Linked DNA regions of Homo sapiens: region 2 is linked to region 1. Evidence: fine-mapped QTL for protein levels in blood plasma. Region 1 holds a variant in brackets. A gene starts in the other region. All regions are shown on their reverse strands.

Region 1 (4,492 bases):
TTTCAGAAAAGTGTGGTTATATGCATAGGAAAAACCCAAATGTGTCTGAATTGCCAAGCAGCATTAGGAAGTAGCCATCTTTGAGGGGTGCTAGGGAGATCAAATCAGAAGGCCAAAACACTCATGATGCTTTCTCCATGAACTCCGCCATCCTTGGCCATCTTGTGCCTTAGCATCTGGAGCAAGCATATTTGACATTTGCTTCTGTGTCACTATATGTCACTGTGTTTGTTTCATGAGTAGGTCTGTCCTCCACCCTGACTGTAAGCGGGCTTCCGGTCACAGGATCATGCCCATGCTCTTAATTCCCCCACCATCTAGCGCAGATTAGGTGTCTAGTAGGTGCATCATAGAACTTATTTCGTTGATTTTTCCATTCCGTAATGGGCACACCAAAATCTCACAAATCACTACTAAAGAACTTACTCATGTAACCAAACACCACCTGTTCCCCCAATAACCTATGGAAATAAATAAAATTTTTTTTAAAAAAGAACTTATTTCATTGAGCCATCAGTGAGGCCACAAGGACTGCCTTGTAAAGCCAGCCCCTAAAGTATTCTATACTAGGGACAGCCTCTGGAAGCAGGTAGTTGAACTTCTATATCTCCTCCCTGCCCCTCCTCTGGTCTCTACCAAAAACCCTGAGCAAATGGGCCTGGGGAGAGGTTAAAAGGAAAGGCAGCAGGACTAAAATAGAACCATGATGATGGAGGAAAAAAGAGTTCTTGGAGGCCAGGCATGGTGGCTCATGCCTGTAATCCCAGCACTTTGGGAGGCCTTGGTGGGTGAATCACCTGAGGTCAGGAGTTTGAGACTAGCTTGGCCAACATGGTGAAACCCTGTTTCTACTAAGAAAAATACAGAAATTAGTTGGGCGTGGTGGCGGGTGCCTGTAATCCCAGTTACTCAGGAGGCTGAGGCAGGAGAATCGCTTGAACCGGAAAGCAGAGGTTGCAGTGAGCTAAGATTGCGCCGCTGCACTCCAGCCTGGGTAACTGAGCGAGACTGTGTCTCAAAAATAAATAAATAAATAAATAAATAAATAAATAAATAAATAAATAAAATAATTCTTGGAATGTTTTTTCTTCTATATCCCACTATCCTTGGTCAGATTTTTTTCTTATTTGTGTTACTGTCTATTAAATGTATTTTCTCTTAAGCTGAGACACAGATCTCTTAAGACTGATGGTTTAGAATATAGCAGACCATATTTTTATGCTGCTTTAGACTCTTGTCCAGGTGAAAAAATTTTTAATAAATGTTGTGAACTTCTGATAACAATCTCTATTTTGTTTAGATACATCTCTTTTTATAATTAAAAAGTAGTCAGATACTAAGCAAAAACAGAAGAACAACAACAAAACCCCACAGCTGCTAAAAGATGAAGAGACATTGAATTGAGAATTAAGCAAAACCCTTGCAGGCAGCAGGACAGGCCAGAGCTGAAGAAGCTGGGAGTGGTGAGGTGCCCCTAGGGGACACTGACAGAGCCTTGAACCCACTGGTGCAGGAGGCAGGGATGAGTGAAGCCTGTCTGTGTCTTCAAGATTATGGTCCCACAGTCCTCTCTTTACCTCATACGCATTGCCTGATTTTGAAGAGTTAAGGTTTCCTTGAAGCACAGGTGCCTCAACCTCTATACCACGAAAGACACCTCTACAGATTCTAAGAATCACCTTACACATGGGTGCCATATGTTTTACCTGGGGCCACTGTTCTTTAATATCATCCCTTCCCTCAGGTTTCCATCTGGATTCCACAAAAGCCACCCTTCCTGAAGTTGGTCCCTCTCACCGGATTTATCCGAAGACCTCCTCTCTCATTTTCCGACCATTCCTTTAGGTCTGCCTCTAAACAAGAGGCCAAGCTTGAAATTCAAGTGTGAAACAAACTCCTGGCAAAATGGCAGTATCTTAGAAGGTGTGAGATATTCTTGCCTTCCAGGAATAGTTGCATTTAAAAAGACAGATGAGGCCAAGGAGGGCAGATCACCTGAGGTCAGCAGTTCGAGACCAGCCTGGTCAACACGGTGAAACCCCCTCTCTACTAAAAATACAAAAATTAGCTGGGCATGATGGTGCATGCCTGTTATCCCAGCTACTCCGGAGGCTGAGGCAGGGGAATCATTTGAACCCGGGAGGCAGAGGTTGTGGTGAGCCAAGATCATGCCCCTCTCCTCCAGCCTAGGAGAAAGCTAGACTTCATCTCAAATTAAATAAATAAATAAATAAGACAGATGGTCCTTGCCTTTATGTAAGTTGTGAACATTCTGTAAAGGGCCAGGGAGTAAATATTTTAGGCTCTGTGGGCTATCAACTCTGTTATGGTGGCATGAAACCAGCCTTTGACAATATGGTAATGAATGTGTGTGGCTGTGTCCTAATAAAACTTTGCATGAGCACATAGAGGGGAACAACAGACACTGGGGCCTCCCAGAGGGTGGGAGGAGGGAGAGCTTCAGGAAAAGTAACTAATGGGTACTAAGCTTAATACCTGGGTGATGGAATATTCTGGACAACAAACTCCCATGTCACAAGTTTACCTTTTTAGCAAACCTACATACGTACCCCTGAACTTAAAAGTTTTAAAAAAACTATTTACAAAAGCAGGAAGTAGGCTGGATTTGGCACAAGGGTTATAGTTTGTTGACCCGAGGTGGATGGTTCCAAATGAGCTCTGAGCTCTGTGCTGATAGCCTAGCCCATGCTAATGGCCACATTTACAGGGGAGGGCAGCGAGCAAGGCTGCAAATCCCACACTGAGCACTGGGACCTTGCTGACAATGGGAATTAGAAGCCTCAGACAAATGGATCAATGCAACCCCCTATCAACAGAAACACCAGGGCTCAGGGTTTAGTAACACCAGTCATCATCTCTGTTCCAATGGACAGAATCAGTACATGTGATGCAGTGAGCATGATGAAATAGGACTCCTTGGTTTCCTTATTTACAACAGTCTCCAGCCTACCTTTGTAGGGCATCTGAGAACGAGTCTTCAGGTACATTTTGCTGCTTCTTTTGGCTCTGACTTTA[T/C]TGATCTCATAGCCCAGATTGTTGCAGCGGTTCTTTCTACAACTCAAGCAGAGCCCTTTCTCAAAGGCTTCCTTGGAACTGCACCTGTAGGCCTTACTTGGATTTTCTTCATTCAACAGAGAGTCGATGAAGAGATGAATGGAGCGCTCGTGGGAGCACTTCACTAGCTGGTCCACATCTGGGTAAAAAAGAGACACCAAGATTGTATCTCGGCAGAAATTCACAAAGAGTGTTTCATTTGGCATGTCTAAAATAGGTGAGATGTGGTGTTAGAGTAGAATCACCCAAGGATATAGTCCTGTGCATTTATGATTGTAGGCCCTATTTCAGGAGATATTCTTGGTGGTAGCGGCCCACCCACCTTCAAGAGAGTGAAAGTTGCAAGTTCACAGGGAATTTTTGACTTTTGTGCTTCTTATATTTATGAGTATGTTTATGAAGCTGTAATAAGCCTCCAAGGTGGAGGTTGATTTCCTTGTTTATCTCATCCTTCTCTTACATTGAAAGTGTCTAACACTTCTAGGTGCTTCTAGAAACATATACCTGCCCCTTGCCTTACAATAAATTCTTCATAAGTCAAAAATACTGTAAGTCAAAATGCACTTAATACCCCCAAAACCCATCATAATGTCAAAAAGTTTTAAGTCAAACCATCACGTGCTTCTCAACTTAAAATGGTGTTACAGCCCAATTGTAAAGTTGGAAAACTGTAAGTTAGGGACAATTTGTATTTCTAGAAACCACATCTTAAGAGGGTAATTGTTAAATGAATTGTATTTTATCATTGATATTATGTACAATTGAGGGTTCTGCCCCTACTAACACTCTTTTATATCAAATGAACATAGAAATAATCAGCAATGCCATAAGAATGAATTCCTTGTAAGTTTTTAGGACAATCGAAAATAGTAACAATATGCTCTAAGTTCTATTACGTGCACAAAAATAACGAGAATATCCTAGGTAGGTCCCAATGTCTATAAAGTATGCAAGGGGCTCTTAAAAATAAATCGTAAACTGGGCGTGGTGGCTCACAGCTGCAATCCCAGAACTTTGGGAGGCTGAGGCAGGAGGATCACTTGAGGCCAGGAGTTTGAGACCAGCCTGGGCAACATTGCAAGTCCCTGTGATTGTGTGACTGCACCCCAGCTTGGGCAATAGAATAAGACTCTATCTCAAAAAACAAACAAACAAAAATCATAAATTTAACACAAGCTAACATTATTAAAGTAAAACATTAAGCTAACATTATGTTCTGAACATTTTGGAAGATTTATCCTAATTAACATCTTCTGTTCCAGTAACATCTAAAATCTTTCCATTGGCTTTGCAGCTACATTCAAGGTATGACAACATGTGGCCAGATAGCATTTTATGATGCCATTATTGAGGTCAGTGGAGTCTTCCTGTCTAAAATCCCACCTTTTTCTCTTGCTACTGTAAGTGCACTGCTCAG
Region 2 (2,207 bases), not on the chromosome of region 1:
TGGTGCCCGACTTGCAGTGGCAGTGCCACGGGCCCCAGGGCATCAGCACCAGCCGCAGATCCTCAGGAGATGGCATGGCTGTGGGTGAGGGTGACGGCCACCGGCTCGGGGTAGACCCAGGTGTGGACCACTGGCTCAGGGTGGCCTGCGAGCCTGGCAGGTCCTCAGTAGACCTCCCGGGGGAGCGCGGCAGGCTTGAAGTCAGCCTGATTTCAGGCTCCTGACTATTGGCTATAAACCTCGTGCTGGAACTCCCCGCTGTATTGGGAGTCGCACTGGGAAGCTCTCTGCTGGTGCTATCCTTTCCGGCATTAATCACAACCCCCTCTTCTGAAGACCCATCCTCCTCGTTAATGGCGGACGACCGGCTAAAGCCGGTGGACACCGTGGCGGCCAAGAGCTCGGCAGCCGCTGGTCCAGCCAGGCGGTCGGCGTCGGCCATGGCATCATTCTCGTCCTCTAGGATTATCCTTGTCTTCCGGGGAAGACCAGTCCGGGCGGTGCTCCGGTAGCTGCGGGTCATGGGGCCCCCAAAGCGTAAACTGACCCGCTGCATTTCGGTCGGAGTCTGGGTCAGGCCTTGGGCCCCCGCCGCCCGGGGACCCAGATTCAGCAGCAGGACCCACAGCAGCGCGCCGGCGGCGGGGACCATGGGGCTGGGCTCTTGGGGTTGGGAGGGTGGCCAGTGAGGCAAGCCCTGCCTCCTACCTTCGCTCCCTCCCTTCCGCTGTAGACCCACCGGGTCGTTTGAACCGAGGCCCGCGGGGAAGGGGGTGGGGTTCGACGCGCAGGCGCGCTCGCGCGGGCCGCGCGGGGTGCTCCTAAGGAACCTCTGCGGCAAGAACTCTGCCAGAACCGAAGGTTTGGGATGCAAGGGGTGGTGAAAGAGTCGTTCACTTCTTTGGAGCAGAGCTTAAATGTCTCATCGCAGTTTATTAGCCTCTACAGTTCTAAATTTACTAAAGAGGGCAAAAATACAGGTTTTGAAAGCACTCCTTCCCAGGCTCACAGGCAGCAGACATGACTTAGAAGGAAAAAGGGCATACAGCGGTTCTTCAAGATTTAATGAGCTGACTCTCCTGGCTCCCAGCAGGCAGGCTGGCTGTCAGGTAAGCCTCTTCCATCCAAGGTGGAAGGATCACAGTCCCTCCAGTTAGACAGGAGGAAAATTAGGACCCAAAAAGATGAAGTTATTTGCCCAAGGTTCTACAGCTAAAGTAGGATTAAAACCCAGAGCTCTGGCCGAGCGCGGTGGCTCACACCTGTAATCTCGGCACTTTGGGAGGCCGAGGCGGGCAGATCACGAGGTCAAGAGATCGAGACCATCCTGGCCAACATGGTGAAACCCCGTCTCTACTAAAAATACAAAACAATTAGCTGGGCGTGGTGGCGTGCGCCGGTAGTCTCAGCTACTCGCTGAGGCTGAGGCAGAAGAATGGCTTGAACCGGGAGGCGGAGGTTGCAGTGAGCCGAGATCGCACCACTGCACTCCAGCCTGGCGACAGAGCGAGACTCCGTCTCAAAAAACAAAAAACAAAAAAACCCAGAGCTCTGCATATCCCATACAAAATGACCCTACATTCAGCCTTCCGTCCCAGCAACTGGAATGAAAGTCACCCAGCAGATCAGTTTCCCAGCCTCAAAGCCCTGCTGAAAGTAGGGTCATGCAAAGGACAAAATCCCACTGAGAAGTGAAGATCCGGTGGTACTGAGGTTGGGGATAAGATGATTTACAAAACAGTTCAGATGTTTCAGGGATTCAGGTGTAGGCAGATCACTAACTGGTTCTAAGGCCTTTTATCCAGTCCTGTGCTATGTCCCTCCTGAGCCATGGAGATCCCGGTCCAGCCTAGGAGAGGGAGAGGGGGAGGAGAGAAGTGGTTCAGGGGGTAGGACTTGGGTTTTATTTTCTGGTTTGGGGAGAGAAGCCAGGTGAATTGGAAGAGCTAGATGATTGGGTTGAGTCATCATTTAGCACTTTTGCTCCCTAACACCCTCTCCCCCACTGGATATCATCTGTTCACTGCCAACACATCTCTTCCTAATTTCTAGGGCCAGTCTGAATCTCCTCTGCACTGTGATTATTCCTTTATTCCTTATTGCCTCTGCACTTATATGTATAGGTTTTTTTTTTTTTTCATTTATTCTTGTTGGATGCAGTAGTGTCCTTCATTTCTTCTCTGGGTGTGTGCAGTTTCCCCATATAC

Direction of the effects. Alleles are on the strand shown, and positions count from the first base shown. The strength of an association depends on the size of the effect and on how common the allele is.
For the plasma level of the protein whose gene starts at base 749 in region 2, C is the low allele of the variant in region 1 and T is the other (weak association).

The links. A credible set is the group of variants that fine-mapping cannot tell apart. PIP is the posterior inclusion probability: the model's chance that the variant is causal. Protein levels are from antibody-based Olink assays in UK Biobank. Linkage for the fine-mapping came from a reference panel and not from the study's own genotypes, which makes the PIPs less certain.
Region 2: it holds the start of C1orf56, and the variant in region 1 is the best candidate, but not a certain one, in a credible set for the plasma level of the C1orf56 protein (UK Biobank, PIP 0.80).

The regions. Positions count from the first base shown.
Region 1 is chr8:19,954,563-19,959,054 of GRCh38, reverse strand. LPL (lipoprotein lipase) reads right to left here. Exons shown (of 10, transcript NM_000237.3): 6 at 2,972-3,214. Among named protein-coding and RNA genes, the nearest start is that of LPL, 18 kb to the right of the region's middle. The variant T/C (reference allele first, on the strand shown) is at 3,037.
Region 2 is chr1:151,046,293-151,048,499 of GRCh38, reverse strand. It overlaps C1orf56 (chromosome 1 open reading frame 56), which reads right to left and starts at 749. Exons shown (of 2, transcript NM_017860.5): 1 at 1-749. The coding sequence starts at 652. It overlaps BNIPL (BCL2 interacting protein like), which reads right to left. Exons shown (of 10, transcript NM_138278.4): 10 at 780-1,849. The coding sequence ends at 1,813. RefSeq lists enhancers at 1-91, 372-421.